2 linked regions of the Homo sapiens genome follow. The protein of the gene in region 2 purifies or fractionates together with the protein of the main gene of each other region. This does not show direct contact. Each region holds a gene or a part of one and is shown on either strand. Other genes may lie near its edges.

The links. Proteins that work in one complex are often made in the same cells at the same time.
Region 1: the proteins of SEMA6B (region 2) and P4HA2 purify together in Homo sapiens (co-immunoprecipitation; one large-scale study listed by IntAct). This does not show direct contact.

What each region holds. Positions count from the first base shown.
Region 1 is NC_000005.10:132,189,854-132,193,353, forward strand, and holds the end of P4HA2 (prolyl 4-hydroxylase subunit alpha-2 isoform 2 precursor), read right to left. Parts: intron 3,228-3,500; coding exon 3,157-3,227; 3' UTR 294-3,156; downstream 1-293. UniProt on the Homo sapiens protein: Catalyzes the post-translational formation of 4-hydroxyproline in -Xaa-Pro-Gly- sequences in collagens and other proteins.
Region 2 is NC_000019.10:4,553,185-4,556,684, forward strand, and holds part of SEMA6B (semaphorin-6B precursor), read right to left. Parts: intron 2,906-3,500; coding exon 2,804-2,905; intron 2,381-2,803; coding exon 2,290-2,380; intron 1,912-2,289; coding exon 1,792-1,911; intron 1,293-1,791; coding exon 1,204-1,292; intron 1-1,203. UniProt on the Homo sapiens protein: Functions as a cell surface repellent for mossy fibers of developing neurons in the hippocampus where it plays a role in axon guidance.

The sequences.
Region 1 (3,500 bases), on a different chromosome or scaffold from region 2:
TAAAGCAGCCAGGTGAAGGCAAAATCACCTTCAAAGGAACAACAAAGGACCAGATAGCGACTTTTCAACAGAAATGGTATAAGCCAGAAAACAAAGAATTACATCTTTAAAGTCCTTAAACAGACTCCTGTATGCACTTGATAGAAGACAGAATTAGTGAACTTTGTACAAAACAGCTATAAAGTTCTCCCCAAATATAGCATATATATAAAAATATGAAAGACAGATTAAGAGATAATATCATGATATGATCCAACTTACATTTAATCAGTTACAGAAGAAACAGACAATGCTGAAAGAAAAAATCATTTAATTTTCCACAATTGATTAAGGATACCATTGTACAAATTCAAGAATCCAAAAAAGTCTCAAACAGGAAAAGAAAAAACCTACAAACAAACCACCTAGTGTGCCAGTCACGTTTCTATTCTCAGCTGCAAGCTCATCCTTGTAGTCTCTACTGTTCTACTGTAGCTGCCACTCTGTAAACTACATTTCCCAGATTCCCTTATCAGCTGGCTTCCTGTTAGGGTCTACCAATGGAAGCCACTAGAGGGAGATTAGACGGCAGTAGATAGCAATTGCCCTAGACCCAGTGGTTTTTTGCATGAGACAATTTTATATATTAAGCCCCTGAGATTTAAGGATTATTACTACAGAAAAAGCCCATCCTATCCTAATAAAATATGCAAAAAATTAAAAGTAGAACTTTACACTTCATACCACGTATAAAGATAAACCTAAATGACAAAGACTATATAGCTTTCAGAAGAGAACACAGGAAACATCCTCATGATCTTGGGGTATAGAAGGATTTCTCAAATAAGACATAAAAAACATAAATCAAAAAGAAAAAGCTTGATAGATTTGACATAAAAATTAAAAGCTCCTGTTTATCAAAAGACAGAACTAAAATAGTGAAAAGACAAGCCACAGAAGATATTTGCAAAATATATAACAAAGAACTTGTGTACATATTTTAAAATTTGTATGAATAAGAACACTTGAAGAAACCTAATAACTAATAAACATGAAAAGTTGTTCAACATTATCAGTAATGTTCAAATAGACACTATACATGTACTGTCTTAGGTAGAGCTGCTATAATAAAATACCATACATTGAATTAAAAACATTTATTTCTCATGGTTATGGGAACTGGAAAGTCCGAGATCAAGATGCTAGTAGGTTTGTTTCTGGTAAGGGCCCCCTGGTTCATAGACAGGCATCTTCTTGCTGTGTGTTCGCATGGCAGAAAGAGGGCTGGGATCTCTTCATAAGGGCACTAATCCCACTCACGTGGGCTCCATGCTTACGACCTCCCAAGGGCTCCGCATCCTAATATCATCACATTGGGGGTTAAGATTTCAACATATGGGCCGGGCGCGGTGGCTCACGCCTGTAATCCCAGCACTTTGGGAGGCCGAGGCGGGCGGATCACGAGGTCAGGAGATCGAGACCATCCCGGCTAAAACGGTGAAACCCCGTCTCTACTAAAAATACAAAAAATTAGCCGGGCGTAGTGGCGGGCGCCTGTAGTCCCAGCTACTTGGGAGGCTGAGGCAGGAGAATGGCGTGAACCCGGGAGGCGGAGCTTGCAGTGAGCCGAGATCCCGCCACTGCACTCCAGCCTGGGCGACAGAGCGAGACTCCGTCTCAAAAAAAAAAAAAAAAAAAAAGATTTCAACATATGAATCTGGTGGGGGGACACAAACATTTAGTCCGTAACATGTACCAAGCTAGCTAAAATTCAAAAGTATGAAAATACTAAATACTGGAAAAGATTGGGGTAATAACTCTCATTTACTCCTGGTGAGAATGTGTATAACCACCTTGGAATACATTATTTAGTAAAGTTGGAACACCATTAAGACTCCACATTTCCACTCCTAGATATATATCCTACAGAAATATGTGTTTATATGTGCACCAGGAATCATGTATAAAAATGTTTATCACAGCATTATTCACAATATACAAAGACTGAAATCAATTCCAGTGTTTATCAGCAGCATGCTGCCTGTATTATGGTACAGTCCTACAATAAGCATTAACAAAACTGAATGTACTATAAAGATTAAAACAAATTACAGCTACACAAGCAACACGGATGAATCTTAAAACAATGTTGAACAAAAGAAGCCACATACCCAAAAATATTTACTCTCATTCTATTAGTAAAAGTTCAAAATCAGGGAAAACAGAATAACTACTTATTTAGGGATCTAATCATAGATGGTAAAACTATAAAGACAAGCAAAGGAATGAGTACCACACATCATGAGACAATGATTTATCTCCAAAGTGCTGGGGGCAGTGAAGGAGATGTGATCTAGGAGGGGTTCCCAAGGGGCTCCTGAGGTACTGACTTGAAAACGTTCTCTTTTCTAACTTGGTGTTGACACAGGTGCTCCTGCTCACCTTCATATTTTTTTAAGTATACATCTGTGTATCATGAACAATTCTTATCTCAAAATTTAAAAATGAAGTACACATTATAACAGCATTACAATCATGAACACATGTGCTATGTTCTCTGGGAGACAAAGAGAAACTATTTACCCTACTTTCCAGAAAAGGACACTGACACTTAGAGGGAACACAAGTGTTGAAACCAGGTCTGAAATCCAAGACCCAAGATGCTTTTTTGCTGCTAAAGCATTCATTATCCAGACTCTGCCTGCATGAAGGTGATGCATAGGAAATGATGAACCTGGTAAAAGCTTCCAGTCTTAAAAATACTCCAAGTAAGGCTCTTTAAGGCTTCTGGTAGGGACATTTTATTTTTTGGTAAAGCCACAATAGATAGAAATGCCATAAAAACAAACATGTAAACAAGGTATCAGAACTTTGGTTCACTGAAACATCTCACACCTAAAACACCTGAGGTACAAAGGCACCTTGCTAGGCGCTAGACAGCTAACTCTGCTGCAGCCACTTTGATCCTAGCCTTGGGGCCAGGGATGGCACAGGCTGAATGGAAGGGCTGGGACTTCAGTCACACAGGAGTCGCCCTAGTATGGTCTCCCTCTGCTCCAGACAAACATTCATTTCTCCAAAAATCAGCCTGATAGGAACATACAAAGGAACATACAAAGGTGTCTGTCACGTTGACATGGGCTGAAGGACCAGGAAGGGGAAGGACAGAAAAGGATGTCAGTCAACTTCTGTTGATCCACAAGGTCTCAAGAACTCCTGTCCTCGTTCATGGAACCACTTATTGGAGACTGTGAAAAGAAAGCAAGCATGTTACAATCCTATTGGTCAGTTTAGTAGCCTGAATGAATGACTCCTTCATGATGACCCCCTGCACTGTGCCCTGGAATCAGACACAAATAAGACAAGACATGATCTCAGGCCTCAATTTGCTGAAGAATTGGTAAGGAAGACACATGTAAACAGATAATTGTATGAAATTCTGCCAGTGGGACAAGATACATGTGTGCAGGTTGCCATGGGAATAGCACCCAAGGGCATCTAATCATGCCCTTTCATGCCCA
Region 2 (3,500 bases):
AAGCAATTGGTAGATAAGTAGATGGATGTGTGGGTGGATGGATGAACAGATGGATAGAGAGAAAGCTAGGTGAGTGGATGGATGGATGCATGGATAGGTGAATAAGTGGATGAATGAATGGATGGATAAGTGGGTGGATGGATGGATGGATGGATGGATGGGTGAGTTGGGTGGGTAGATGGTTGGATGGGTGAGTGGATGGATGGATGGATGGATGGATGGATGGATAGGTGAGTTGGATGGGTGGATGGTTGGATGGGTGAGTGGATGGATGGATGGATGGATGGATGGATGGATGGATGGATGGATGGGTGTGTGGGTGGATGGGCAGATAAATGGATGGATAGATGGGTGGGTGCATAGATGATGAGTGGGTGAATGAGATGGATGGATAGATGAGATGGAAGGGTGGATGGATTGGCAGATGGATGGATAGATGAAGGATGGATGGATGGGTGGGTGGATAGGTAGATGGATGAATGGATGGGTGGATGGATTGGCAGCTGGATGGATGGATGGATGTGTGGATGGATGGATGGATGGATGGGTGGGTGGGTGGGTGGGTGTGTTGGTGGATGGGTAGATAAATGGATGGATGGGTGGATGGGATGGATGGATGGATGAATGGATGGGTGAATGGATTGGCAGATGGATGGACAGATGATGGATAGATGGATGGATAGGTGGATGGACTGATAGATGGATAGGATGGAAGGGTGGCTAGATGAATCGATGGGTGGATGGATGCATGGACAGATGGATGAGTGCACGGATGGATGGTAGTGGGTGGATGAGTGAGTGGGTGGGCAGATGAGTAGATGGATTAATGGGCTCATGAAAGTGTGGGTGGGCTGAAGAACAGACAGATGGGTAAGTGGGAGGGTGAGCAGGTAGACGGATGGACAGGGGATGAAGGATGGATAAGTGATTGTGGCTGGGTGGGTGGGTGGACAGGTGAACAGCAACAGCACCAGGTGTATCTGACTTCCAACTCAAGTCCCTCGTCAGGGCTGAGTGCTCCACGGCTGCTCCGTAGATGTCTTCAGCCTCAGGGCCTGATCATGGCTGGAAAGGAGGCCCTGGGGACCAGAAATGGAGGGCAGGACCCTCTCACCCCATGCAGGGATTCATGGATCCACCTCTGCCCCCTCACTTCGCATGATCAGAGCCTCTCAACTTCATGCCCCACTGCACCGGCCTCACCTTCTCCAGGTAGTTAAACTCCATCGCAATCTCCCGGAAGAAGAAGTAGACATGGCTGCCCCACTCCACCGCATGGACAAAGTAAGGCTCTGCAGGACAGGAGGGGTCAGAACTCAGCCCCTGACATGACAAAGGGGGTTTCTGGGGCTAAGAACTCACTGGCTTTTATGGTGAAGGGGGGACATAGGCTGGTTACCCAGACAATATGAAACAGACTCAAAGTTTGGTATTTTGCAGGGGAAGGGAGGTCAGAAGCCTAAAATCGCTGTGTCTCTTGCTGCAAATGGCAACATCAACTATTTTTTGTTATCTTCCTCCCTCATGTGTTGAAGAGCTGAGTCCTGCTATATCTTTTCTGTGGTTCCATTTTGGGCTTCTAAGCCACCCACTTCCAGCGGGTTCTACTTTAGATCCAACTAAACTTGTTCCTCTAGCTTTCTAGTCTTCAAAAAGGCCAACAGATTCCAAAGATGTGGTGGAAATCTCTCCACCAAGCTCCTCTGGGACTCTTATTCTGGTGGGGAGATTTGATGAATGTCAGGTTCTGGGCCCTGCCAGGTCTGGGCCCACTGCCCTTCCTGGTCTCACCTTTGAACCACTTGGAGTCATGTTTCACGGTGCGCAGGGTGGGCCTGTCCCCGAGGCTGCGGTAGATGACAGCATCAATGGCTAGGAAGTCGGTAACAGTAGCTGTGAAGAGCATCCCGTCTGGATGGGGTGGGTGGGGAAGGCAGGCAAGAGATGAGACCGCAGAGGCCAGGGGCTGGGTGGGTCGAAACTCGATTTTCTGAGACTGAGTCCTGAGCCTAGGGGAGCCCCTGTCTCCAGGCTGAGCCCTGATCCCATCCAAGCCCCACCTCCATCCAAGCCCTGACCTTAACTGAGCCCCTGACCCCGGCTAAGCCCCAAATCCCGCTGAGCCTCAATCCCAGCTGAGCCCCAAACCTGGGCTGAGAGTCTGCCCATGTCACAGCTGGGACAAGTGGTCGTCCAGCTGCCTTCTAAACAACCCAGACGCTGGAGTAGAAAATGCCAGGTCTTGCCTGTGGCTGGGGCTGATCAGATGGAGGTTGGGGGGGTACTTACCAGAGAAGAGGGCAACATTGGCGTGCTTGGGGTCGTACGGGCAGCGGGCCATACCGCTGATGTTGTCTCCGACGGGCTGCAGGGTGTCTATCTGCAGGGACCATGGGGCCTGAGTGACAGATCTCCTGACCCCACCTAGCAGCCCCTGGCTCCCTCAGCCCCCCACTCCAGGGGGAATCCTGATCCACCACGGATTACTGTGTGACCTTGGCCACTCACTTAACCTCTCAGGGCCTCAGTTTACTGATCTGTAAATGGGTTTAAGAGTCAATGCCTAGTTAGACCTGTAACTGGCTCATTACCTAAGTAGCTACGGCTTCCCCGGCCCCCTGTACAGGCCTCGTTTGGACAGCGCTGACTCCTCTTGAGCTCAGGGGGAGGAGGCAGGGAGAGTATATCCAGGAAGGCTTCCTGGAGGAGGTGACACGGCCTGGGGAAAAGCCATGGCCAGCGGAGGTCGGGCGAGCAGAGGCCTGGAGGTTGGACCTGGGGCGCAGGGAGTCTGAAGACTCACGCTGTAGTTGGCGCACACCGGGTTGAAGGCGTTGGAACCGCACACAAAGAGCGTGGACTCGTCCCGAAGGAGCAGCACCTTTACGAAGTTTCGACACTCGCCCTGAGGTGGGGACAGGAGGAAGCGGGGAGCGCGATGTGGGCGTGGTCATGGTGATGGGCGTGGCCAGAACCTGAGTTGTGTGGGTGGAGGGCCGGTCTGTTGTGGGCATGGCCAAGGCAGGGGCTGAACCTAGGACTGGCTGGGGACACGGTGCGACCCAGACAGGGAAACACTTTGTATCAGCAACGCAGGCAAGGCCAGGATGGTGGGCATTGTCAGACTGTGGGCATAACCATGGCAATAGCAGAGTCCTAACCTGGGATGGAGGAGAAGGATCCGCCCTGGGTGTGGTCACGGCCGATTGGGGTGGGGCATGGTCGTGACCAGAACTAACTGGGGCGTGGTGGGCACGGTTATAGCTGATTGGGGCCAAGTTGGGAGCGTGGCCAGAGCTGGTGGGGTGGGCGTGGCCTGGGCTTATTGGGGCGGGCCGGGGGCGTGGGGGGCGGCAGGACTGATAGGGGAGGGGTCGGGATGGGGACCTGATCGATTGGGTGGGGAGTGAGCTATTGGGTGGCGTGTGAACATGGCCTGGGCTTGTTGGAACGAGGCTGGGGGTGGTGGTAGGACTGACAGGGGCAGAAGTGTGGGCATA